Linked DNA regions of Homo sapiens: regions 1, 2, 4 and 5 are each reported to be linked to region 3. The links are microRNA targets in miRTarBase. Many come from high-throughput screens and were not tested one by one. Region 3 holds a microRNA gene; each other region holds the end of a gene's coding sequence.

Region 1 (5,834 bases), not on the chromosome of region 3:
TTTCCTAAAATTTCTTAACAGATATGTTTTATTTTTATGGAAAGAAAAAACAATAAAAGCTAATATAAATATTTAATTGGCTTTTTTGTCTCTTTTAAAACATACTTTTATTGAAGTATAATTTGTATACCACAAATTCACCCATCTTATGTAGACAATAATTTTTAGTAAATTCACCAAGTTGTACAACCATCACCATATGTAGTGGGTGTTTTTTTTTTTTTTTTTTTGACAGGGTCTTACTCTGTTGCCCAGGTTGGAGTACAGTGGTACTATCTTGGCTCACTGCAGCCTTGACATCCTGGGCTCAAGTGATCCCACTTCAGCCTCCTGAGTAGCTGGGACTACAAGGTGTGCACCACCATGCTCAGCTAATTTTTTACTTTTTTGTAGAGACAGGGTTTTGCTATATTATCCAGGGTGGTCTCGAACCCCTGGACTCAAGCGATCCTCCTGCCTCAGCCTCCCAAAGTGCTGGGATTACAGACGTGAGCCACCATGCCCAGCCCACCATATCTAGGTTGAAAATGTTTTTTTCATCATTCCAATAAGATCATATCTTTTTATGAAGCTTCTTCATATCCGTTAACCCTAGGCAAACATGAATCTATTTTCCTGTCTCCATAGATTTGCCTTTTCTGGACATTTCATATATGTAGAATCATATAATATATAACCTTTCACGCGTGGCTTTTTTCACTTAGCATAATGTTTTGAAGTTATGCTATATCATTCGTGATATAGCTCATATAAGTATTTTACTGCTTTCTGTTAGGATTTGTCTTCCATTAAGGATCTCCTACATTTTGTTTATCCCTTCACCAGTTTTTAGACATTTAGCCTGTTTCCACTTTTTGGCTATTATGAATAATGCTGCTATAACATTAATGTACAAGTGTTTGTGTGCACATATGTTTTATTTCTCTTGAGTAGATACGTAGGAATGGAATTGCTGAGTTGTATAAAAAAATTATACTTAACCTTTTGAGCAACTGAAAAATGGTTTTCCGGCCAGACCCGGTGGCTCACACTTGTAATAGTAGCACTTTGGGAGGCCTAGGCGGGTGGATCACCTGAGGTCAGGAGTTTGAGATCAGCCTGGCCAACATGGCGAAACCCCATCTCTACTAAAAATACAAAAAAAATTAGCTGAGCGTGCTGGTGGCTGCCTATAATTCCAGCTGCTCAGGAGGCTGAGGCAGGAGAATCGCTTGAACCTGGGGGGTGGAGGTTGCAGTGAGCTGATATCAAGCCAGTTCACTACAGCCTAGGCGAGAGGGCGAAACTCTGTCTCAAAAATAAATAAATAAATAAAAAATAAAAAATGGTTTTCCAAAATGGCTATATGCTAACTCACATTCCCGCAGGTAAGGAACGAGAATTCTTGTTTCACTACTTCCTTGCTAGCACTTGCTACTGTTTGTCTTTTTGATTATAGCCTTCCTGGTGGATGTGAAATGGTATCTCATTATGTTTTAAATTTGCATTTCCTTAATGACTGACGATGTGAAGCATCTTTTCATTTGCCATTTGTATATCTTCTTTGAAAAATGTCTATTGAAATCTTTTGCGCATTTTAAAATTGAGTCTTTTTTTATTTGGTTTGTTTTTAAGAGTTCTTTGTATATTCTGGGTACAAGTTTTTTTGCAATGTATGTGATTTCCAAATACTTTCTCCCTGTCTGTGGCTTTTCTCTTCCTTCCTTCCTTCTTTCTCTTTCTTTCTTTCTCTCTTCTTTCTTTCTCTCTCTCCTTCCTTCCTCCCTCTCTCTCTTTCTCTTTTTCTTTCTTTCTTTTCTTTCCTTCTTTTTTTTTTTTTTTTTTTGACAGAGTCTCACTCTGTTGCCCAGGCTGGAGTGCACTGGCACAATCTTGGCTCACTGCAACTTCTACCTCCCAGGTTCGAGTGATTCTCCCGCCTCAGCCTCCTGAGTAGCTGGGATTACAGGCGCCCACCACCATGCCTGGCTAGTTTTTGTATTTTTGGTAGAGACAGGGTTTTGTCATGTTGGCCAGACTCATCTCCAACTCCTGAGCTCAAATGATCCGCCCTCCTTGGCCTCCCAAAGTGCTGGGATTACAGGCATGAGCCACCTTGCCTGGCCGCTTTTCATTACCTTAATGGTGTCTTTTGAGGGCAAAAGTTATTTCTTTCTTAAAATACTTTTTATTTTCCACTCTGTGCAACATAGCAAGACTCCCTTCTCTACAATTAAAAAAAAATTAGCCAGGTATGGTGGCATGTGCCTTTAGTCCCAGCTACTTGGGAGGCTGAGGCAGGAGGATCACTTGAATTATAGCTGCAGTGAGCTATAATCACACCACTGCACTCCAGCTTGTGTGACAGAGTGAGGCACTCTCTCTAAAGAAAGAAAAGAATAGCTTTTTATTTGGAAATAATTAAGGGTTCACAGGAAGTTGCAAGAGTGGTAGAGAGATGTCCCATGTATCCTTCACCCAGTTCCCCCTCAACCCCAAAATAATGCATTTTGGTTAAGTCAAATTTGTTAATTATTTTTCTTTTATGGATCATGCTTCTCGGGTCACGTCTAAAAAACCTTTGCTGAACCCAAGATTTTACCATTTTCTTGTATGCTTTATTCTAAAAGTTTTATAGCTTCCACTCTTACATTAATGTCTCTGGTTCATTTTGAATGAAGTTTTGTATAAGGTATAAGGTAAGGGTCTAAGTTAATCTTTTTTTTGCATGTGGATATCCAATTGTCCCATTATCATTTGTTGAAAAGATACTATTTTCTCTATCTATGACACAGAGTTTTGCTCTGTTGCCCAGGCTGGAGAGCAGTGGCACACTCTTGGCTCACTGCAAACTCCACCTCCCAGGTTTAAGAGATTCTCCTGCCCCAGCCTCCTGAGTAGCTGGGATTATAGGCACATGCCACTACACCTGGCTAATGTTTGTATTTTTAGTAGAGACAGGGTTTCACCATGTTGGCCTGGCTGGTCTTGAACTCCTGACCTCAAGTGATCCACCCACCTCAGCCTCCCAAAGTGCTGGGATTACAGGCATGAGCCACTGTGCCTGGCCTTATTTTCTCTATCAAACTGACTTGGCACCTTTGTCAAAAATCAATTAACCATAAATATTAGAGTTTATTTCTGGACTCTGAAATCTGTTCCTTTGATCTATATATCTTGTATTAGTACTAAATGGTCTTGATAACTTTAGGTTTATAGTAAGTTTTAAAATTAGGAAGTAAAAGTTTTCCAACTTTGTTTTTAAAAAATTATTTGCTCTTCTGGGTCTTTTCATTTCCATATACATTTTGGGTACAGCTTGTCAATTTCTGCAAAAACCCTGCTGGAATTTTGATGAAGACTAAATTGAATGCATGCATCAATTTGGGGACAATTGTTATCTTAACAATATTGAATGAGTTTTCCAATCAGTGATCATAGAATGTCTCTCCAATTATTTAGATCATCTTTAATTTCCCTCAGAATGCTTTGAAATTTTCGATGTACAAGTTTTATAATTATTTTGCTAAATTTATTTGTATTTTATTTTTTTAATACCATCGTGAATGGAATTTTCTTGTTTTCAGATCATTCATTGTTCATATACAGAAATACCAATATACCATTTTTTTTTTGGAGACGGGGTCTCACTTTGTTGCCTAGGCTCGAGTGCAGTGGCTATTCACAGGCAAGATCACATTGCACTATAGCCTCAAACTCCTCACCTCAAGTGATCCTCCTACCTCAGCCTCCCAAGTAGCTGGGACGAAAGGTACATGCCATCTCCACTGAGCCCAGCCTTCAATGTATTTTTGCATATTGATATTGCAACCTGCAACCTTGCTGAACTTATTAGTTCTAACATGTGTGTGTATTCCTGACGGTTTTCTGCATAAAGAACCATGTTGTCTGCAAATAAAGACTTCCTTTCTAATCTGGGTGCCTTTTATTTTTATTTATTGTATGGTTGCTCTGGCTAGAACCTCCAGTACAATGTTGAATAGAAGTTGCAAGAGCTGACATGCTTGCATTATTCTTGATCTTAGGGTAAAATAATTCAGTTTTTCATCGTTAAGTATGATATTAGCTGTAGGTTTTTCATAGATGCCTTTATGATGTTCTCTTTCAAGTTTGAGAATTTTTATTATGAATTGGATTTTGTCAAATGCTTTTTCTGCATCTATTGAGATGATAGTGTAACCAAGGAATTGTGAAAAAAGAAAAAAAGATGAGAATACTGTTTTGATACTTTATTAATATAGTATGTTATGTTAATTGATTTTAGGATATTAAACCATCTTTGCATTCCTAGGATGAATGTCAGTTGGCCAGAGTATATAATCCCTTTTATATATTGCTGGATTCAGGATCAAACTGAATTTTAAAAATATACTGACTTTGGAGGAAATTCAGAAATTTGTCAAGTGAAGTGGCCTCCTTATAAAAATATTGATGGTTTAACGATATTCTTAAAAATTAGAAAGTTCAAATATCAATATCTTTTGTCATTAGGACTAATAACCCAAAAGATTTAAAAATAATTATATTAAGTATAATTAATATGCCAATTAACAATGTAGAATGTTTTCAAACTATGAATTTTTTAAACATTATTTTATTTTATTTTATTTTATTCACTTAAATAAGGGAAAGTCTGTTTGTTTGCTTTTGTGAAAGTTCATTCATTTCTTAATGATGTTTTTCAAGACTAGTATTTATTTTATTTCACCATTACAATTATAGACTAATAATCTCATAATCTTTCTAAACATAAAAATTCAGACAGTTCACATTATGAATTTTTTATTTGTTTATTTATTTATTTTATTTTTTGAGATGGAGTTTTGCTGTTGTTGCCCAGGCTAGAGCGCAATGGTGCAATCTCGGCTCACCACAACCTCTACCTCCGGAGTGCAAGTGATTCTCCTGCCTCAGCCTCTTGAGTAGCTGGGATTGAGGGCATGCGTCACTACACTCAGCTAATTTTTTGTATTTTTAGTAGAGATGAGGTTTCACCATGTTGGTCAGGCTGGTCTTGAACACCTGACCTCTGGTGATCTGCCCGCCTCAGCCTCCCAAAGGGCTGGGATTACAGGCGTGAGCCACTGCGCCCGGCATGAAATTTTAATAGCTAGTCTTCGTTTTGAACAGTGAACATTATAGATCTATCCCCCAATTCATCCTCTTTTTTCAAAATGAGTTTAAAAAGGTCTCTCTCTTTTTCACAAGCTAGAAAGTATCCTTCGTATGATGAAGATTCAAATTGCATCTTATTATCATGTCCTGGGACACTTCTCTGAAAGAATATGATGTCACTTTTTGTATCCTTGATGTTATCAGGAGGATTCATTTCCTATAGAGAAAAAAACATTACCTAATTATTTCAGGACATGAACAATTTGAATATATGAAGTTTGTTTTGAAGTATATTACCAAACAGAACAAAAGTAGTTTTGCTTCTCAAGAGTTACATAAAAAAAATCTCTGAACAGCAGTACTGACCTCCTCTCCTTCTTAACTCCGAATCTCCTATTCTCCCTGTCATGGGATGCATATTCAGTTCCAGGCCTCTAGTTTTCCCCTATACATCAAACAGCTTACTTCTCTCCTCTCCCATTGAGTGGTGTCCACATTTGCTCAAGATTAAGTAGAGTTCCAGCAAAGACCACAAGCTTTTTGGGCTAATGTCAATTTCTGTCCTCTATAATAACCATTCACGGCTAAAGACGATGATGACCTCCTCCCACAAACTTAGGCTAGTTCTAGTTTCTTTTTCTTTTTGCTTTGAGACAGGGTCTCGCTCTGTTGCCCAGCCAGAAGTGCAGTGGTGAAATCATAGCTCACTGCAGCCTTGA
Region 2 (6,163 bases), not on the chromosome of region 3:
CCAGGCAGCCCCGAAAGAAGAGCCTGGGCCACGGCCACGTATAAACCTCCGAGGGGTCATGAGGTCCATCAGTCTTCTGGAGCCCTCCTTGGAGCTGGAGAGCACCTCAGAGACCAGTGACATGCCAGAGGTGAGGCTGGGGCTGGGGGAGCTCAGCTTGCAGGGGTGGGGGCCATAAGGAGGGAGATGGGGAAAGACCAGGATGGGCGTTTGACTGTAGACCTGAGCAGGGCGTACCCGGGCTAAGTCTGGCCCGCCCATGCAGGGTGTCCTGGGAGGACCCAGGGGGCCTGGTCCCAGCCTCCTTCACAGTCAGCCCAGTATCTCTTAGCACCCGGCGTCTCCAGCCTGTCCCATGAATACCCCTGAAGATGGGGACCAGCCACGTCCTGGGCCCCTGAGAGCAGCTGAGATCCAGTGAGGGCAGGCGGAGGCACTGTAGGCACAGGCTGGAGAGGGGTCACGGGGGCAGGGCAGGAAGCAGTGCCTGTTTCCAAGGCTCCTGGGTGAGCCAGCCCCAGCCTCGATCGCGGGCAGGTTCCAGCCTGACCACAGGACTAGCTGTCTCAGGGGCAGGGCTGCCTCCCCAGGCCATGAGCTCCACAGGCCCCTGCAGGCCCTGGGGGCGATCTCTAACCCCATGGTGGGGAGGCTAAATTAATCTCTGAAGCCCCTCCCTGGTCTGAGGAGCAGCACCTCAAAGGATGGGGTGGGGAGGAGTCTGCGCACTCACGCCGCCCAAGTCCTGCCTAAGTCAGCACCCTTGATGCTCAGTGCTGCGGGCACAAGCCTAAGCCTGGGAGCCAGGCCCTGTCTGGGACTCAAGGCCAAATGGCTGACTTGGAGGAAGGAGCATCCACTGAGGGCAGGAACATTTGGGAGAGGCTTCCTGGAGGAGGTGTGGGTGGGGAAGGATAGGGAGGCGTGGTGGGTTGATGGGCGGGTGTGGGCGTTGCTAAAGGCAAGAGGTCCTCACCCAGCACCGGACGCACGCATCCACCCAGCCCAGCTCAGGGGCTGGTGCCGGCACGGGTTTCACCTGCCGGCTGCCTACGCAAAGGCAGAGAAAGCATAGGAGGGGAGGAGGGCAGGGAGGCCTGGGTCTCCAGGGAGCTGAGGAGGGCTTCTGGGGGCCAGAAGGAAGCTACAAGCAGGTAGGGTTCAAGGAGCGGGGCAGCAGGGCTGGGGTGTTGTCCTCCCTCCCGAGGAAGCGTGGCTGTGGACAGCTTGGCTTTTGGCGTGCGTGCCACAAACATTCCGGCCCTCGCCTCCTCCTGGCTCTGTGCTTGGCACCCCTGCCCCAGATCTTCCCGGCTCTGTGCTTGGGCACCCCTGCCCCAGAAAGGCCTCCCATGGCTTCCGTATCCTCACACCTGTCCAGGTCTTCTCTTCCCACGAGTCTTCACATGAAGAGCCTCTGCAGCCCTTCCCACAGCTTGCAAGGACCAAGGGAGGCCAGCAGGTGGACAGGGGGCCTCAGCCTGCCCTGAAGTCCCGCCAGTCAGTGGTTACCCTCCAGGGCAGTGCCGTGGTGGCCAACCGGACCCAGGCCTTCCAGGAGCAGGAGCAGGGGCAGGGGCAGGGGCAGGGAGAGCCCTGCATTTCCTCTACGCCCAGGTTCCGGAAGGTGGTGAGACAGGCCAGCGTGCATGACAGTGGAGAGGAGGGCGAGGCCTGAGCCCTCACACATGCCCACGCTCCCCTGACACTGAAGAGGATCCACAACTCCTTGGAGAAACACCCTCACGTCTGTTGCCGCACACATTCCTCTCAGCTCCGCCCCATACCCGTCACTACAGCCTCACCTCCCACCCCTGTCACTACGGCCTCACCTCCCACCCCTGTCACTACAGCCTCACCTCCTACAGCCTTAAGTCCCAGGCCCATGTCTGCCTGTCCAAGGGCTCAAGACTTTCTAACTGGGATGTGGTAGAGGGACTGAAGGTACCTTTGGGGGCAACAGCACCCTAGTTTCATTCTCAACTCTAGCCCTGCACACTCACCTGTGGCACGGAATGAAAACAGAGCTTCCCGTGCAAAAAGGGTCACGCCTCCCACCCCCGCCCCCTCCCTGCACCTCCTGTCCTCTCCCAGTTCATTCCTGGAACCAGCCAGGCCAGGCAACCAGTGGCCCCCAAAGGCAGGCAGGATCCTCAGGCCCCAGCCGCGGGAGGCTGGAAGGGCTGGCAGATCGCTTCCCTCATCCACCTCCACCGGTCCAGGTCTTTGCTGCTGTCCCCAGACCTCCTGTGACACCACGCCAGATCACAGGGCACCAGGCCAGAGATAGTCTTCTTTTTGTCCTTTCTGGCCTCTGGCTAGTCAGTTTTTCATAGCCTTACAGTATCTGGCTTTGTACTGAGAAATAAAACACATTTTCATATTTGGTTATTTTCAATGTGACGATGAAGCCATCTGTGTTGCAGTCAGACCCTTCTCTGCTGGCTGGGGAAGGTGGCCGCCCCTTCCTCCCAGCAGTCTCCTCACAATTCCAAGGTGGCTCGTGACAGACCTATTTGGGGGAGTGCCGTGTTTGGGCGTGGCGTGGGAGGAAGATTGGGTAAGAGAAGAGAGGAAGTCAGTGCTATCTCCCCATCTCCTGGGGCAGGGCCTGGTAAATATGACCTGCTCACACCCACCCGCTCAGACAGGTCGGGCAAGGGAAGAAGTCGTCAGCGGGCAGCAGGCATGTGGCTCCACTGTGAGAGCTGGAAGGGGTTACTCATGAGGAAGTGCCTACCTGGACAGGACCAAGCCTGTTCCAAAAGCGAAGCCTCCTTGGGACACTCGGCGCCAGGTTCTCTGGCATGTTTTGGGTCCCAAGAATCACCTTCCTCCTGCTACAAAGCAAAGGGCCTGACTTTCCAAGCCAGGCTATTGCGGCCTGGGAAGAAGGACCCTTGGTGACACTTCCCCTCCTGCCCAGGGGTTCCTTCTGCTCAACTTTAGTGTCCAAGAAGAGTTAGTCATTCCATCTTTTTTTTTCTTTTTTTGAGACAGAGTCTGGTTCTGTTGCCCAGGCTGGAGTGCAGCGGCACGATCATGCCTCAGTGCAGCCTTGAATTCCCAGGCTGAAGAGACCCTCTCACTTCAGCCTCCTGAGTAGCTGGGACCACAGGCACACCTAGCTAAGTGGTTGTATCTTTGTCACTTCCTTTTTTTTTTTGAGACAGGGTCTTGCTCTGTCACCCAGAATAGAGTGCAGTGATATGATCTTGGCTTTCTACAGCCTCAACCTCCCGGGCTCAAGGGATCCTCCTGCCTCAGCCCCTGAGTAGTTGGGACTACCTACATGTGCCATCATGCCTAGCTAATTTTTATCTTTTATTTTTTGTGGAGACGGGGTTTTACCATGTTGCCCAGGCTGGTCTCGAACTCCTGGGCTCAAGCGATCTGCATATCTCGACCTCTCAAAGTGTTGGGATTACAGGCGTGAGCCACTGCGCCTGGCCCATCTTTGTCACTTCTATCCCTCTTCCCAAGATTATGTATGCTCTCTGCTCTATGATACATTACCCTGGTTTGGGGAAGGGGCCGGATTCAACTCCTTCCCTCAAAGCAGTCCTTAGAGATGGGAGCTGGCACCAAGCATTCTCAGTGACTGAGACTTCACGCCCAGTTTTAAGAATGAATCTCTCACCCAGGCCCTGGTGGGACTCCTAGCACTGCTCTAACCCTGAAGTGCGCAGTGGCAGGAGACTTGGATTTAGCCCCAGCTTCACCACTTATGAATTACTTTGCTTTGAGTCTCTGTTTCTTTCTGTAAAATAAAGGGATTAGACCTGGAAATCCCCAAGTACCCCTCTTCACTTTGATGCATTTTATATTATTTATTATTTATTTATTATTGAGTACAGTGGGGTGATCTCAGCTCACTGCAACCTCTGCCTCCCAGGCTCAAGACATCCTGCCTCAGCCTCCTGAGTAGCTGGGACTACAGGGCCACCACGCCTGGCTACACTTTGATACATTTTAACAATACATGCTATCTAGACATTGCTAGATTAGCCTCTACCTCCCTTCCAGAAGAGGAATCCTTGGCACCTATCTGGGTGGTATGCCTAAGGGTCACAAGATGTGGGGTACATGCAAGCTAGTTCTGATTCTTGATCCATCCTGCTGAGCAAACACTGGGGGCTACCCCCCACTCTGTGGCCAACTAGGAGTCCTACCCAGGCTGCCCTTTCAGTATTCCTGGCCTAGGGCTGCAGATGGGTGGGGTGGTGGTGAGAGTGTCGGGGTAAGCCAAGGCCAGGCCCTGCCCCTCCTGCAGCCTGTGCATCTCAGAAGGCAGGTCCAATCAGGAACTCAGAGCTGTGGGGCTCACTAGAATCCACTAGAATCCAGGAGGATTCTAAGAAGTAAGAAGTCAGCAAACAGGGAAATGAAGACTGGAGGGGAAACCGCATCAAAAATACAGACAAGAGGGTGCCGGGTGTGGTGGCTCATGCCTGTAATCCCAGCACTTTGGGAGGCTGAGGCAGGCGGATTGCTTGAGCCCAGGAGTTCGAGACCAGCCTGAGCAACATGGTGAAACCCCATCTCTACAAAACAAAACAAAACTACAAACAATTAGGAACCCTATTGGCTGGGTGCAGTGGCTCACGCCTGTAGTTCCAATACTTTGGGAGGCTAAGGTGGTTGGATCACCTGAGGTCAGGAGTTCGAGACCAGCCTGGCCAATGTGGCAAAACACTGTCTCTACTAAAAATACAAAAATTAGCTGGGTGTGGTGGCGTGCACTTGTAATCCCAGCTATTTGGGAGCCTGAGGCAGGAGAATTGCTCGAACCTGGGAGGCTGAGGTCGCAATGAGCCAAGATTGCGCCATTGCACTCCAGCTTGGGTGACAGAGTGAGACTCCGTCTCCAAAAAAAAATAAAAATAAAAAAAACCCTATGTATACACAAAGCTCACCCAAATTGCTAAAGGGGCAAAAAATAATAAGAAGGATATAAAATGAAAAGTAAATCTCACTCCTACTCTGTCCTCTAGTCCTTCACATCTACTCAGGCAATGACTTGTTACCAGCTGCCTTTGATGCCCTCCAGGTACCCCATGCTTATGTAATCAAATATATTGGTATGTGTATTTTTTAAAAATACAGACAATAGCATGTTAACATACTATTCTACACTTTGAAAATTGGTTCATATCAGAGTTCCACATCGGTACCGTGGTGTTATATATACATTGGTTTTCATCCAGGCTCCTGGCTCATAACCCTCATAGCCCTTGTTCAGTCTTTTGTTCTAATGTTGAGTGTGTCAGGCCTCAGGAGCAGGCCGCAGGAAACAACCTCTTGACATTCTGCCCTCCTCTCCCTTGCCCCAAGGCAGGGCTCTACTGTTCACCCTCACTTTCAGATTGTGGGTTATAAGACCCTCCCCAGAGAGACCCTCCTCCTCACTCTATACCCTGGTGTAAGGAATGCTGATGTCATGAAGCTTCCATTAAAAACCCAAGAGGACTGGCTTCTTGGAGCTCTGGGTAGCTGACCATGTGCAGGTTCCTCCCCGGTGGTGCACCTAGGGAGGGTGTGCACACTCCGCACCCTCCCCCGTGCACATCTTTTCACCTTTATCCTTTGTAGTATCCTTTATAATAAGCCACTAAACGTAAGTGTTTCTTTGAGTTCTGTGAGCTGCTCCAGCAAATTAATCAAACCGAAAGAGGGGATCGTGGGAACCCCAACTTGAAGCTGGTCAGGCAGAAGTTCTGGAGGCCTGGACTTTTGACTGGGATCTGAGGGGAGGGAGATGCAGTCTTGGGGGCTGAGCCTCAACCTGTGCGATCCGACACTATCTCCCGGTAGACAGAGTTGGAATTGAATTGGAGGCCACCCAGCTGGTCTGTTGCTTGGTGTGTGGGGAGAAAAACCCCACACCTTTTTTTTTTTTTTTTGAGATGGATTCTCACTCTTGTCCACCCAGGCTAGAGTGCAATGGCGCAATCTTGGCTCACTGCAACCACCACCTTCCAGGTTGAAGCGATTCTCCTGCCGCAGCCTCCCGAGTAGCTAGGATTACAGGTGCCCACCACCATGCCTGGCTAATTTTTTTTGGTATTTTTAGTAGAGATGGGGGTTTCACCATGCTGGCGAGGCTGGTCTCGAACTCCTGACCTCAGGTGATCCACCCGTTTCGGCCTCCCAAAACGCTAGG
Region 3 (4,000 bases):
CGTCCTAGACCCCACTGCCTGGGCTGGAATCCTGCTGTGCCACTCACTAGTTGTGGGACCTTGAGATGTCACCTCACCTCTGATGCCTGTTTCCCCACCTCCCTCCCCCTCGGGTTGTGAGAATTGAGTCACTATTTATAAAGTGCTTAGAACAGTGCCTGGTACATATCAAGTGCTCAATAAGAGTTGGTTTTAAAATATTAATTTTTAAAATCTAGGACAATTGTTTATGTTTGGAAGTAGGCTTTGGAGATGGGCTAGACCACTGGGTTTCCCCACCTCAACCCACTTCACTAAGTTAAGAAAAGTGGGTTTCATGGAATATTTCATTTGAACAAAGAGTGCCACTGCTTGAAAATATTTGGCTCACATTTTGCAGAGGAGCAAACAGAAAGCCAGAGAGGGGAAGGGACTTGTCCAGGAGCCTCTGCAAGTTCACAGCAGAGCTGGGAGCCGAATCCAGGCTGCCCACCTGCCGGGTCAGGTGTTTTATTGGCAGCATGAGCTCCTGGGATGTTCATTCACCTCATTTTCATTGCCAGTCACGCTGACCCACAGAAGGTACTGCTGGGCACCCTCCTCTCCCATCCCAGCAGCTGCAGTACCACCCCACGCTGGAGCTAAGAGCCCAGCCCCACCAACAGGTGAGACCCATGACCCTCAGACTTCAACACGCCCCACTCTGGAGCCTGGCCAGGCCTTTTCATTTGTCCTTCATTTGTTCTTTCCTATCATCCTCTGGTTCTCTACAACATTTCCTTGGCCCGGAAACTTGCTGGAACTTCCTGCCTGTCCTCCCTACATCTGTCTGCCCCTTGTACCCTGTACCCCTGCCCCATAGGCTGGAGACTACCCCAGAGGGAGGAATCCCACCACCACTCAGTCCCTTGGATGTGGGCCCCCCTTGGAAGCAGTTTTGCCCAGCTCAGATCCAGCCTGAGCTCACCACACTCTCTAGGAGCCCATTCCTGAACACCTCCCAGAGGCTGGCCACTCCACCTGGAGAGCAAGGTTTCCACAATCTTCTCTGGCTCAGGAGGGCCTGGCCTGATGCCCCACGCTGACTGTGGAGGTAGGTTGGGAGCGAAGTGGTGAGTCTGTAACCAGAGAGAAGAGCCATGTCCCATGCAGGAGCCGCTCTGCCCAGGCAGCTGCAGGCCCAGCCCCTGCCTCCTTCAGAGCAACAGAGAGGCAGGCATGCGGGCAGACAGACGCCCAACACAGAGACCTCCCACACGCTCGTCTGTGTCACCGCCGCCCCTTCCTGGTTGGCCCTGCAGACGAGGAAGCCCTCCAACCTGCAGCCAAATTCACTCCTTGCTGACAAGAGGCTCCTAGAGGAGAAGGGCTACTCCCCGGCCCCCAGGAAACTCTCTGAACATAGCTATCTGCCATCAAGGCCTGGATCAGCCAAGCAGGAGCTGCACTTGCCCAGCCTTTTCCTTCCTAGCCACACTTAAGCAAGACAAGTGGCATGGGCACGGAGAGGCTCCCCTGGCCACACACTGGGCAGGGACAGACCTGGGCTACTCATCCTTTCTGAGCAGCTAGCCTGGCCCAGGCCTGCAGACTGAGTGGCCCACCCTGCCCGGCCCCCCATAGGCATGAGCTCCCATACCCCCACCTCAGGCATGGTTCCATTATAACAAATTATCCTCGTTCACCTCCCACTCCACTTCTCTGACGGCTCCCTCTCTTGACTCTTGTCCTGCCTTTGTCCCATCCTTGCCCCCGACCGATGGCTGCTATTGCAAAAGTGATCCGAGTTCTGAATTTCAGCAGCATTTGATCATTTCAACTGGACCCAGCCCTGATAACCTGTGCCAGGCACTGTGCCAAGTGCTTTAAAATCTAGGACTTAATTAGGTATGACCCTTCTATTTTACAGATGAGGACACTGAGGCTTGCCCACAGGCATAGAGCTATTAAGTGGCCCAGCGTGGATTTGAATCCAGATGTGTCTGAATCCAGAGCCCCAGGTCTTACCACCAGCCCTGCCACGTGGCTGGCACACCCACAGATGTGTTCTCACCCCATGAGTAAAATCAGACACTCATTCTTGCTCTTGCAGCCATAGAGGTTGGAGGGAAGAGGGCTGAGCCCCTCAGGGGATGGTTTCTGCAAGTTCTGTTCAGGGATCTGTCTTCCTTCAGTGCCACTAACACTCACCTGTCATTGCAGGCAAGAGGAAATCAACATTTTACAGCAATAAAAGGCTGCTCCTGGTTAGGCATCAAACGAATCAATCTTCTCTGACAGTTAATTTTCATTTTGCAACTTTCCCCAGCAACAACAGCAAGTAATGACCCTGAGGATCTGCAAAGTCGCTGATCAGCAGCCCAGCCTCCCATACTCCTGACTCATCCACTGCCCTGGCTCAGCCCCTTGCCACCCATGCCCACCATTCACCTCCCCCTTCAGCCCTCTGAGATCCAGGGGTCTCTCTGCCCAGTGACCCCTCTCAGAGGCTCAGGTCTAAACTTCCCCGTGGAGCGCTGAGACAAGAAACAGACACACCAGAGCTCACAGTTGAAGCCACCCTGCTGGGGTAGTCACTGAGGACCCCCTGGCCAACAGCACCATTCCATCCTCGCTGCTCCCACCTCCCACCTCATCAGTGATCCTCCCCCTCCTGATAACCCATCATCACTGCCTCCCTAACACACCTATGACCCCAGCTATGACTCCAGGACCTGCCACCAACCCCCAATGCACAGCACCAGTGACGCCATCAGAAAGCTCCTCCAGCAAATCCCTCTAATTCCTGCAAACCTCCTCCCAGAGCATTCACACACGGCATCCCTGCCTACCCCCAAATTCCATCAATAACCCCAAAACTACCACATCTGACCCCCAAATACACCATGCCTTCCCAGCACTTCTACACAGCTGAGGAGCCCCCAGGCTCTGCACCTGTCCCCAGCCCTGCCCTAATCTGGTTCGAGGCTTCCTGATCTTTTACACACCACAGTCAGATGAGAGGATTCTTTCCCAGGGGAGGGCCCTCCTGCCCAACTCCCATGATCCCAGGTCAGTGATGAGTGTCAGCCCAGCTCAGAGCCGCCAGGCCCAATTCTCCAGAACCTACTCTGTGGCCTGGCAAGAGAGATAAGAAAAGGCCCACTGGGCCCCTGGACTGTGGCTCCATGGTGGCCTCTACACCAATTGCAGCAGCTTTCACAGGCTTAGGAAACCCTCTTGGTCCCCTGAACCCTGGGATTCACAGGCAGCATGGAGCTTAAGTCCCCAGAGTTTTCTCATGAGGCCTACTACTTCCTGCCGGGCTATAGGATTGGGTAGTGGGACTCCCCCTACCCCTCCACTTCCCCAAAATGCCCAAGACCAGGCAAACACCAAGCCAAGGAGGACTCTTCCCCTATCCCCACAGAGCCTCTGTCCCCAAGAACAAGAGTAAATACCATTTAGTGAGGCTCTCTGTGTGCCTAGCATGGTGCCAGCCAGGCTGACCACTCAGCACAGGGCCACGTCAGCATCACGTCACGGCATGGATTCCCACCCCGGGAAAGTGCTTGGCACACAGCAGACAGCCACAAACATGTATTAAATAAATGAATAGATGGAATGCCTTCCAACTGTTACCTCATGAAATATCTCAGCCCCTGCAAGCTGGATATTATCATCCCAACTTCAATTTGAGGAAACAGGCTTCAAAAGGGCAGCTTGCAGCTGAAAGTCATGTAGCCATCAATGGGCAGAGCCACATTCAAACCCAAATCTGTGCAAACTCAGAGGCTCTGCTGTCTCTGATCCACATACGGTCCCATTCAACAAGGACAACAGCGGTGATGGCAGCTCAACCCAGCCCCGCCCTGGGGCTGCTGAGTGCCCATCTCTTCCTGACACCAAACTGCAGCTCCAGGAAGTACAGGCGGCAGCCCCTACATCTCCCTGGCAACCCAGGAGCTTTTGTTCAGGAAGAATGAAGCTGATTCATCCCCCCAGGGTGAACAGCAGGGTCTAGACCTGTGAATGCAGCCTA
Region 4 (6,163 bases), not on the chromosome of region 3:
CCACCTCAGCCTCCCAAAGTGCTGGGATTACAGGCATGAGCCACTGCACCTGGCCTCTTTATTTTTAATTGGTCAGTAAAAATTGTATATATTTATAGTGGACTACATGATGTTTTAAAATAGGTATACATCGTGGATGGCTAAATCAAGCTATTTAACATATGCATGATCACATATACTTATTTTTTTTGTGGTGAGAACACTTAAAATCTGCACTTAGCAATTTTCAAGTACATAATATATTGTTATTAACTGTAGTCACCACGATGTACCATAGATCTCTTGAACTTAATCCTCTGGTCCAGCTGAAATTTGGTGTCTTTTGATCAACATCTCCCTAATCCCTCTCCAACCCCTCAGCCTCTGGTGACCACAATTTGACTCCCTGCTTCTATGAGTTTGATGATTTTAGAGTCCATGTATAGTGAGATCATGCAATATTGGTCATTCTGTGCTGGCTTATTGCCGTGTGACAGCATGTCCTCCAGGTTCATCCACGTTGTCACAAATGACAAAATTTCCTTTTTTATAAGGCTGAATGTACTTCACTGGGTATATATGCCACTTTTTCTTTATTCATCTGTTGATGAATACTTAGGTTGATTCCATATCTTTGCCTTTACTTTTTATTAAAAGGCAAAAAGTAAAAGTTACTGTGTGACTTCAAGCATTCTTTCTCATTGATGTGTTTATTTAGTAAATGTTTTAGTTAAATGAGAAATCAGCTTATTCGTATGAAAACATGCCTGGGATTTAAAGAGTGATTTTAATGAAGCTTGAAGACATTATTGGAAATGAAATAAGCCAGACACAAAAGGACAAATGCTGTATGATCCACTTCTGTGAGGTTCCTGGAACAGGTGAGTTCGTAGAGACAGAGAGTGGAGTAGAGGTGACGGGGGGTTTGGGGAAGAGGGGAATAGGGTTATTGATGTATGCTTGTAGAGTTTCTGTTTGGGTGATAGAAAAAGTTCTGGAGCTGGAGAGTGGCAGTGGATCTAAACAATGTGAATGTACTTCATGCTGCTGAACCATACACTTAAAATTGGTTAAAAAGGTACGTACGTTCTGTGAAATATATATATATGTTTTACTACAATAACAATAATTAAAAAATAACTTTCAGGTGTCTCATATGAAGGATGAAAAAGAGGCCCTGATAAACCAACTAACTTTGGTGGAATCCTTGTGGACGGAAGAGCTAAAGATTCTCAGGGCATCTGCCGAGACCCTGCACAGTTTGCAAACAGCTTTTACCTGATTTCACCGAAGCGCATTTGGTCACCTCCTCTGGTGGGTGTTAGTCACACATTTTAGACTAAGGTTTGATGGACTAAATTTATATAGTTTAGAGTCGATGAGTTGTGTCTACTCAACAATTAGGAACTTAATCCTTTTCCTTTTGCTTTTCCTACAGAAACAAAAGTTAATTTTGAAGAGCATCATCATGGGCTGGGGTGGTGGCTGCCCCCAGGACATGCAGGATTTCTGCAGGGGGCAGCACAGGTTCTGGGATTGTGAGGCTGTGAGTGAAGGTGGACAAGCTGTCTGGATGGCAGGTCTAATGCTCTTCCGAATAAAGTGCTGAACTGTGAGGAGAGAGGCGGACTGTGAGGCAGCCAGGAGCCAGCTGCGTCCGTGTGTGGTCTGTCACCACGGGGCCTGCTTCTTATCTGACACAGCAGCTATCAGAGTCTAGTGGTTGTGCTTTTAAGATGCTCTGATACCATTGGGTTAAGGGGCAGATTGGCGGTGGGTGTGGGGCAGTGTGAGGTAGTCCTGGATCCCCGCCAGGGTGGCCCAGACGCCAGCCCTTCCCTGTGTGGCTGCACTGAGGTGGGTGTTGAAGAGCCCCCTAGGGGACACACAGCTTCCAGGAGGAGGGAATGTCCTCTAAGCATGCTCCTGGCCTCTCAAGGTGGCGCTTGTCTAATTATTCACTTGGGAAGAATGACTAGCTCAGCCAGCGGCTCTTTCTGCTTTGTTCTGGCGACTTTCCTGGGCAGGCCTTTCCACCTGGGGAGCTGGCTCATCCTGCACAGCTGGGCCGTGGTGGGCCTGTCTGCTTGATTCTGGGGTTCAGTGTAGGTCAGCTGATGGCGAACCATGGTGGTGGTTTGGCTTCTGTTCTTATTCTTGAGTTTTGATACCACGCAGACCTTGGGTGGGGAGAGCTTCCTGCACAGCTCTCAGCGGCCTGTGGCCTTGGAACTGCCTGCGTAAGTAACGGAGGGGCTGCTGGTCCTGTTCAGGCCCGTGCTGGGGACGCCGCTTAGACAATGTTGCCCAGAGTCCTGTTTACCCTCCCAGGGTTCATTCTTCCCAAGAACTCAAATTCCTTTCTCATTGGAGCCTAGTGAAACCAAATGAACGGGACCTGCTGGCCTCAGGAGGCAGGCAGAGTTTAAAATAAAACTTTCTCATGATTTCTTGAACATCTTTCCCTGTTTGTATATACACTTTGTGTTTATTTTTCAGTAGCTGCAGTATATTTTTTTTCAATATTCAGTATAATGCAGTGTATTTCATCATATGCTGTATGGAGAGTGGGCAGACTTCTGTGGAGGGCCCGATAGTAACCATTTGAAGCTTTCTGGACCTGTGGTCTTAGTCCCAGCGATTCTGCAGAGCGGCCATCGGCAGCATGTCAACCATTTGCATGGCTGGGCTCCAGGGAAACTACTGACAACGACAGGTGGTGGGCCATAGTTTCCTGACCCCTGTGCTATGCCAGAATTTCTTTTTCCTCTTCCCTATGAGTGGACCTAAATATGTTAATTCCTTTTCACCTTTCAAAACGGACAGCCCCTTGAACATTAAAAACTTCGCAGACCCTACATGGTCATTGTGCTTTCCTTGTCCAGTGATTAGAAAAACTGCGCAGTGGGTGGGCGTGGTGCTCACACCTGTGATCACTTCAGGGGAGGCTGAGGTGGAGGATCTCTTGAGCCCAGGAGTTCTGAACAGCTTGGGTGATGTAATGCGTCCCCCCGCCCCACAATCCCGTTCCTACAAAACAATTTAAAAAATGAGCTGGGCAGGGTGGTCCGTGCCTGTAGCTGCAGCCACTCGGAAGGGTGAGGCCAGAGGATGGCTTGAGCCCAGGAGTTTGAGGTTGCAGTGAGCCAGGATCGTGCTACTGTACTGCAGCCTGGGCGACAACTAACTGAGTGAGACCCTGTCTCTAAAAATAATAAAGCAAAATTAAAAAATACACAGTGACAAAAAGCAGCTGCCCAGAAACATGTACAACTAATAGTTCATCAGCACAGCAGATCTGCATTTATTTACAGCTGAGTAATACTCCATCAGCACAGCAGATCTGCATTTATTCGAAGAATAGTATGAGACTGTAGACAATGCTAGTTATGTGAAGTCACGGACCCCTTGCAAGAAACCTGTGGCCCCTTGTTGGGCAGTCTGGCCACAGGGTGAAACCACCGCTCACAGTCCATACGCTTCCTTTCGGCTGCTCTTTTGTTTTGGACTCAAAAGACGCTGGTGGCAGGCTGTTCTCGTCAAGTCATTCTTAGGGCAGCAAACCCATCTGTCCCCATCTAGGGTGAGGCAGCGTGCAGTGCTGTTTAACCGACGGCGCTATTTTCTTCCTTATTGTCTAATCACCACCGCCCTCCCCGGACTCCCCCTAGCCATCTTTCTTTCTTGGTTTTCTCTTTGCTGGTGCTTTGGGTGGGCCTGAGGCTCCTAAAGACTCGCACCCCTGTTGGTGTCTAGTTCTGAGTTTGGGTGGTAAACCTCCAACTGCTGACTTGGCCCGAGGGGACAGACAGCAAGAAGTTAAGGGCGATTGGAGGCATTCCTCGATCATCTTTCCAGCTAAGGATAGAATAGGCCCTCCTCTGTGGAGGGTGTTCCTCAAGGAGGGAGGCCCTCCTCTGTGGAGGCTGGCAGTGATGTTTGAGGAAATAGGTCTGTAATTGTGTGAAAATGACTTTCTCACCGAAACTCCTGGCCGTGCCCCTTGAGGGCCCATGGGGTCCAGCAGAGGCGATTCTGGCTCCTCCTCGGTGGTCAGCTGCTGCCTTCCGTACTATAGGTAAATGCTGGGCGGCAGGTTTTGTCCCGAGGGGGAACGTGTAACAGAACCCATGACTTGTGGGCTGATATTTGAACAGCCTTGTCAGGAATGCCACCTGTGGGATCCCTTGTAAAAGAGCTTTCTCCCACAGTACAGAAAGTCCTGTGGGAACTAAAAGGAACAAAACGGAGGAAGGAAGGCGCAGGGACAGTGCATCTTTCTCCAGCCCGGCCAATGTATCCATGCATCAGCCCCCACAACAGGACAGCGACCCCCACACATCAGTGCCCCACAACAGGACGTGACCCCCACACATCAGCGGCCCCTACAATAGGACAGCAACCCCCACACACATCAGCCCCCACAATAGATCAGCGACCCCCACACACATCAGCGCCCCACAACAGGACAGCGACTCCTCACATCAGCGCCCCACAACAGGACAGCGACCCCCACATATTAGCGCCCCACAACAGGACAGCGACCCCCACACATCAGCGGCCCTCACAACAGGACAGCAACCCCCACACACATCAGCGGCCCCCACAATAGGACAGCGACCCCCACACACATCAGCGGCCCCCACAATAGAACAGCGACCCCCACACACATCAGCGGCCCCCACAATAGAACAGCGACCCCCACACACAGCAGCCCCCACAATAGAACAGCGACCCCCACACACAGCAGCCCCCACAATAGGACAGCGACCCCCACACACAGCAGCCCCCACAGTAGGACAGTGGTCCCCACACATATCAGTGCCCCCCACAGTAGGACAGCAACCCCCCCACACATCAGCAGCCCCCACAATAGGACAGCGACCCCCACAGTAGGACAGTGACCCCCACACACATCAGTGCTCCCCACACACATCAGATTCCCCCCACAGTAGGACAGCGACTCACCACACGTATCAGTGCCCCTCACACAACACACCAGTGTCCTCACACAACACACCAGTGTCCCCCACACAACACGCCATTGCCCCCACAGAACATGCCAGTGTCCCCCGCACAACACACCAGTGTCCCCCACATGACATGCCAGTGTCCCGTGCACACGCCAGTGTCCCCCACACAACACGTCAGTGTCCCCACACAACACGCCATTGCCCCCACAGAACACGCCAGTGTCCCCCACACGACATGCCAGTGTCCCCCACACAACACGCCAGTGTCCCCCACACAACATGCCATTGCCCCCACAGAACATGCCAGTGTCCCCCCGCACGACACGCCAGTGTCCCGTGTACACACCAGTGTCCCCCGCACGACACGCCAGTGTCCCCACACGACACGCCATTGCCCCCACACAACACGCCAGTGTCCCCCACACAACATGCCATTGCCCCCACAGAAAATGCCAGTGTCCCCCCGCACGACACGCCAGTGTCCCGTGTACACACCAGTGTCCCCCACACGACACGCCAGTGTCCCCACACAACACACCATTGCCCCCACAGAACACGCCAGTGTCCCCCACACGACATGCCAGTGTCCCCTGCACAACACGCCAGTGTCCCCCACACAACACATGCCAGTGTCCCCCAGACATGCTAGAGTTCCACTGACAGCACGCCAGCACCTGCCCCCACCAGCAGACATTTCTCTCCCGTGCTCATCCCTCTCACCTTTCAGAGGGTGTTTCTCATCTTCCTGTTGTAACCTTTCACTATTTTCTTGTTTTAATATCCTTTTATTCTATGTAGTTTTAACATTAGGCTATAAGAAAATTAAAAAAAAAAAAAAACACCTGGGCCAGGCACGGTGGCTCACGCCTGTAATCCCAGCACTTTGGGAGGCCGAGGCGGGTAGATCACGAGGTCAGGAGATCGAGACCATCCTGGCCAACATGGTGAAACCCTGTCTCTACTAAAAATACAAAAAATAAGCTGGGTGTGGTGGCGGGCACCTGTAATCTCAGCTACTCCGGAGACTTAGGCAGGAGAATCACTTGAACCCAGGAGGTGGAGGTTGCAGTGAGCTGGTATCATGCCACTGCGCTTCAGCGCAGGCAACAGAGTGAGACTCCATCTCAAAAAAACAAAAAACTCCCCAAAATAGAATGTATTTAATAAAAATGTAAGGCTACCACTCCACAAGGTAGATAGTAGCAGGTGCT
Region 5 (5,554 bases), not on the chromosome of region 3:
GAATCACAAAGGGAACTTGGAAAGAAAAAGACGGTTGGGGGCAGGGGTCCCTTTTTGTTGCTTAGAGAAAAAAAAACTTTACCTAAAAATAATATCTGATATGTTACTGATAGTTCACATTTGGCAGCTGACCAAGTATATAGCAATGTTCTCTAGCCTTACATTAAATTCTTACAACAATACTATGGAATAGATACTATTATAAATCCTCATTTTACAAAGAGGAAAACTGTGGCACAGAGATACTTTACCCAAAATCATAGGGCCAGAAAATGGCAGAGCTGGGATATTCCAGAGCAAGAAAATGGCAAAATATAAGTGAAGTAACCTTTCAATGAATTTGGTTTTAACTCCACAATGCTGTTTGAACTAAATGCCTTTAAGTTAACTACAGAATAAAAGGGTGAAAGGATAAATCATTTCAGCAAGGTACCCTAAAACCTACCAAAGAAGAAAAAAAATATGACTTGAGATTCTATAACCTTGTCTACTTAAGCTAGAGATTCTTGAATCCTGTCATGATGAATGGAAAATTGAATGCATTTTCCTAAGGGGTTCATCATAGCTTACAGTTTTTTTTCCTTTCTTTTCTTTTCTTTTTTTTTTTTGAGACAGAGTCTGGCTCTGTCACCCAGGCTGGAGTGCAGTGGCATGATCTCACTGTAACCTCCGCCAGGTTCAAGCCATTCTCGTGCCTCAGCTTCCTGAGTAGCTGGGATTACAGGCGGGTGCCACCCCGCCCAGCTAATTTTTTCTATTTTTAGTAGAGACAGGGCTTCGCCGTGTTGCCCAGACTGGTCTCGAACTCCTGACCTCAAGTGATCCACCCGCCTCCCAAAGTGCTGGGATTACAGGCATGAGCCACCGCGCCGGGCAGCTTACAGATTCTTGCAATAGTACTTAACCACACGCCCTCCTAGCCCCAAAGTAACGAATCACAGATATTTTTAAAAAAGAATCAAAGCACTCTGGTCCAAGGCAGACCAGAGTTAAGTAAGCATCTGGTAGGTGTCATAGTCCAGCAATACTGTAAGTTTATGGGAAAGGGCCTATGGAAACCAATGACTGTATATAGTTCAAGTTAAGTGGTTCAAAAATTTCGTTCATTATTCTCTGCCATGTACACAAGCCTCAGACCCTCTAATTCCAAGGAAAATTATCCTTGGCCTCTGAATTCTGTGAATTGTGTACATTAAGGGAGATCTGTCCTTGGCAAGCAGAACACGTTGTTGGCAAGCTGCAAATACCTTCCACCCTTTTGCCAAAGTCCCCTCACAGGGCAGGCTCAATTCCTCAACCTTCAGACCCAAAACGGCTTGGTATTACACAACAATCCAACAAGAAAGCAAATAAGTATGTACGTTGGAAGAGATTACACCACTTTTATAGTTACTGGGCTGGAGCCACTCATTTTTCAGCGGAGAGGGTTAGAACTGGGTAATGAAGGTAAATCCCGAGGAGTCCAGGAATAGCAGATTCACTGATTCACTGACTCTCTGGGACTCGGGCTGCCAAAAATAAAATCCCAGTACTGGGGGCTCCGATCAGTCTTGGTGACCAGCACTAGGCAGCTTCAACCTCGGGTGCCTGAAAGTGCTGGGTGTCCAGTGGCATAAGTCTTCTTTGATACCCAGTCCTCTACACCAACAAAGCCGAGGTCCGGAATGACAGTCCCCAGAGAAGCGGAGTCACCCTTCTCCCATCCGGCTAGGCCACAGGAACCTGAGAAAATCAAGGGTTGCTGCCAGGTGCCCGCCCCCCACCCCGAATCCCCGACGTTGTCGCGAGTCCCGCGGTACAAGGACAGAGGGAAAGTAGGTACAGTGTTCAGGTCCCAGCCCCAGGCTCCTCACCCAACAAAGTTCAGTCATCTGGTGCACCAGCTGCTGGAAGCGCTGCTTTTGAGTCTCTACCTCGATGAAATGCTGCAACTGCGGGTCCACTGCACCCAAACCCGCCGCGGAGGAAGAGGAGGAGGAATCCATCCCAGGGCGACCAAGCTTGCAGAGACGAACTCCGCACCGACCTTCACGTGTCTCCGCGACGGAACCGGAACCACAGCTAGCTGCCTCTGGGACCGCCCCCGTGAGTGCACTGCGTCGGCGCGAGGCAGGCGTCCAACTCCACCCCGCCGCCTCCCACACCTTGGCGCCGGTGCTTCGTTCCCGGAGTCGGCGGGTTCCACTCCCCGGACCCCGCAATCCCGTAACCCCGCAACCCTGCCGTTGCGCCCAGCCTTGCGCCTTGAGATCGCAGGGCTTACAGCCCAGAGCCGAGGTGCCGTTGAGATGTTACTCCAAAAAGAAAAGAAAGGAGAAAAGGAAGTTACTTCAGACCACGTGATCCATTCCGTGCTGGCCCCACAGCTCCGCCCCTGTCCACTTCCAAATTAGCCCGCGTTTTCTGAGCTACCAGAGTTGTGCACTGGGTCAGTTAGTTGACTGGGTCGATTAGTTGGCTATCCTGGGCCCCTGGCTTTCGTTTTTTGATGGAGTTTTCCTCTCCCGACGTAGGGAAATGAGGCTATGGCAGTTTGTGCCCAACTTTCAGATTCATTCAAATAACATTGCATGCGTGCTGTGACAGGCACTGTTTTTGCTTAATGCATCTTTGATTCAGAGGCAGGAGTTAACAAGAGGGCTTAAACCTGGAGGATCCTGTCGAGTTCTCAGTGTAGGAATATGCCAAACTAATGCTACACAGCAGCTTTCTGGAATACTGAGATAGGGCGCTTCAGGGAGGCTGCATGATTAATAGAGATACCAAAGACTTTCAAGCTTTCTAGTAATTTTATTTTATCAAAACACCCTCCCCTCCCATCTTTATGACACCATTTCATTCTTGCCAAATTCGGTCCACCCCCACACACACACCCCCAAGCTCTACCAAATGCCTACTCAAAGAGCTGTTGGACCCCTTTGTGCGGCTATTTACATCCTCCCTCCTAAAAAATATTTTCATCGCAAATTCAGTCTGTCTTAATTCTCTCGGGAAATTTCAGGCACAATAATTTCTTGGCCTTTGCTCAGAAGCCACTATCCCAGGGAATCAAAGAAGAGGTGCATTCCCAGATGTAGAGAGGGGCCTTTTTGTATTGAGTGGGAGCACAAAGGCTCCAGGGCTCCTAAGCTTGGGATTTCCTCTGAGAAAGTGAAATTGGGGCTTGTGGAGAAGAGAAGTAGAACCAAGAAGCTTATTGGCGAGCTCAGGATTCTTCATCCATGACATCTAGAATATTGCTCAGAAGAATTTTGAAAGTGGGACGCTCATCTGCTTTCTAAAACCAAAGAAAAAGTAAAGTGTTAGAGTGGCTAGAATCCAGAATTCAAGGGAAATGCAATGAGTAAGCAGCAAATGTTTATTAAATATATGCTCTATGCCCAGTAGCATGCCCTGTCGATTACAAAAGGAAAAAAAAAAAAAAAAGAAATAGCAGCTCTCCATAAAGTCTTTGTGCACTTTTCATCTTTAGTAACTCAGGTTATTAGTGTGATAAGAACAATTTGCAAATTAAACTGACAATCACACTGATCAAAATTGAGGGCAAGTTCATTATGTAACTGTATACAACACATTCTTATTTTGGATCCTCAAGTGAAAAATGGCTACCAAACAAGTTCAAGTGGTTGGCAGAACAGAAATCCCATGTGATAATTTTTAGTGATTAATATTTCAAAACCACAGGCTGTATTACTGAGCAGGGATTCTGAGTACCTGGGACCTTTTTTTTTTTTTTTTTTTTTTTACCACTGGTAACAAAAAGACTAAGGTTTTTTTTTTTTTTTCTTTTTGAGACAGAGTCTCACCCTGTTGTCCAGGCTGGAGTGCAGTGGTGTGAGCTCAGCTCACTGCCACCTCCCAGGTTCAAGCGATTTTCCTGCCTCAGCCTCCCAGGTAGCTGGGATTACAGGTGCACGCCATCACGCCCAGCTAATTTTCGTATTTTTAGTATAGACCGGGTTTCACCATGTTGGTCAGACTAGTCTCGAATTCCTGACCTAAGGTAATTCCCCCGCCTCAGCCTCCCAAAGTGCTGGGATTACAGGCGTGAGCCACCGCGCCCGGCCTACGACTAAGGTTCTTTTTGATGGCCATGGCCCATAAGCCCCCGAGGTATTTGGTATTTAGTGGTTCAGGGAACATTCATGCCAGAATGCTCTCAATCTGTTAGAACCAATGGTCATCAATTTCTTGATTCCTTGACTCAGTGATTCTTAAACTTAGCTGAGTATCAGAATTTCCTGGGAAGTTTAAAAAGAGATTTCTGGGTTCCACTTCAGGCATAGCTAATCAGAATTTCTGGAGAAAAGTCCCAGTTACCTGAATTTTTTTTTGTGACACAGTCTCGCTCTGTCACTCAGGCCAGAGTGCAGTGGCAGGATCTCGGCTCACTGCAACCTCCACCTCCTGGGTTCAAGTCATTCTCCTGCCTCAGCCTCCTGAGTAGCTGAGATTACAGGCACACATCACCACGCCTGGTTAATTTTTGTATTTTTAGTAGAGACAGGGTTTCACCATGTTGGCCAGAATGGTCTAGATCTCCTGACCACGTGATCCGCTTGCCTTGGCCTCCCAAACTGCTGGGATTACAGGCATGAGCCACCATGCCCAGCCAGTAATCTGCATTTTTAAGAGCTCCTTAGGGTTTCTGATATGCATCCAATTTTGACCACTCCTTTAAACAGGCTGTGGATAAAGTACCTGTCTGAAATCATTTTTAATTAGCAGAGTAAGAAGGTCCTGATTGGGAGGGAGCATAGCCAATCACCCTTAATCCTGCATCACACAGAAGAAAGAAGGAGTCCTCCCTTTCTGCACTTTCTCTGTGATCTGTCATTTGTTCGAGGGAAACCAGCCATGCTCGGATCCAGATACCCACTTTTCACCTCACCAAGAAGGCTCCAGATTCACATATGCACTTGTTGGACACTCTGAAGAGTTGAGCATTTATTTCCTACTAGAAATTTAGGTTGCCAAGGATCTACTGAAAAGTAGAGAAGGCATCTTGGGAAGAACTCGAGGTAAGAGGAGCAAAGCAGTTTAATAGTAGTAGGACAGATTTCCTTATTTCCAAAATACCACACCTACCCACATACCCCACGATGCACCATATTAAAAAGCAAAACAAAACAAAGCAAACAAAAAACCCACTACCTGTTTTAGTTCCCTTTCAAGCAGTAGGTTTTAAAAAAAATCTCATTTAGCCGGGCGCTGTGGCTCATGCCTGTAATCCCAGCACTTTGGGAGGCAGAGGCGGGTGGATCACAAGGTCAGGAGATCGAGACCATCTTGGCTAACACGGTGAAACCCTGTCTCTACTAAAAATACAAAAAATTAGCCGGGCGTGGTGGCGGGCCCCTGTAGTCCCAGCTACTCGAGAGGCTGAGGCAGGAGAATGCTGTGAACCCAGGAGGCGGGGCTTGCGGTGAGCCGAGATCACGCCACTGCACTCCAGCCTGGGCGACAGAGAAAGACTCGGTCTCAAAAAAAAAAAAAAAAAAATCTCATTTAGGACCTCAGCCAGAAACGGTTGGCAGCTAATAAAGTAGAAGAA

What was found. The annotated mature microRNA hsa-miR-346 reads UGUCUGCCCGCAUGCCUGCCUCU and lies in region 3 at 1,188-1,210, opposite strand. An mRNA with a match to its seed (bases 2 to 7 or 8) in the 3' UTR can be bound and repressed. Matches are read on the target gene's strand: a 7mer-m8 pairs with bases 2 to 8, a 7mer-A1 pairs with bases 2 to 7 and ends in A, and an 8mer does both.
Region 1: miRTarBase lists IL18 as a target of hsa-miR-346. The part of its 3' UTR that is shown has no 7-base or 8-base seed match.
Region 2: miRTarBase lists SSH3 as a target of hsa-miR-346. The part of its 3' UTR that is shown has no 7-base or 8-base seed match.
Region 4: the mRNA of SETD4 is a reported target of hsa-miR-346. Seed matches in the 3' UTR shown: 7mer-m8 at 2,550-2,556.
Region 5: miRTarBase lists BTK as a target of hsa-miR-346. The part of its 3' UTR that is shown has no 7-base or 8-base seed match.

What each region holds. Positions count from the first base shown.
Region 1 is chr11:112,138,486-112,144,319 of GRCh38, forward strand. It overlaps IL18 (interleukin 18), which reads right to left. Exons shown (of 6, transcript NM_001562.4): 6 at 4,775-5,332. The coding sequence ends at 5,111. Among named protein-coding and RNA genes, the nearest start is that of IL18, 23 kb to the right of the region's middle. RefSeq lists an enhancer at 4,843-5,012.
Region 2 is chr11:67,310,210-67,316,372 of GRCh38, forward strand. SSH3 (slingshot protein phosphatase 3) reads left to right here. Exons shown (of 14, transcript NM_017857.4): 13 at 1-130; 14 at 1,382-2,383. The coding sequence ends at 1,678. Among named protein-coding and RNA genes, the nearest start is that of SSH3, 9.8 kb to the left of the region's middle.
Region 3 is chr10:86,263,560-86,267,559 of GRCh38, forward strand. It overlaps MIR346 (microRNA 346), which reads right to left and starts at 1,229; the gene lies at 1,135-1,229. The region is part of intron 2 of GRID1 (glutamate ionotropic receptor delta type subunit 1); the gene reads right to left. RefSeq lists enhancers at 1-370, 748-1,248.
Region 4 is chr21:36,031,215-36,037,377 of GRCh38, reverse strand. It overlaps SETD4 (SET domain containing 4), which reads left to right. Exons shown (of 12, transcript NM_017438.5): 11 at 1,127-1,293; 12 at 1,418-2,837. The coding sequence ends at 1,261. Among named protein-coding and RNA genes, the nearest start is that of SETD4, 26 kb to the left of the region's middle.
Region 5 is chrX:101,346,680-101,352,233 of GRCh38, forward strand. It overlaps BTK (Bruton tyrosine kinase), which reads right to left. Exons shown (of 19, transcript NM_000061.3): 19 at 2,771-3,277. The coding sequence ends at 3,206. TIMM8A (translocase of inner mitochondrial membrane 8A) reads right to left here and starts at 2,063. Exons shown (of 2, transcript NM_004085.4): 1 at 1,854-2,063. The coding sequence starts at 1,985. RefSeq lists an enhancer at 1,985-2,034.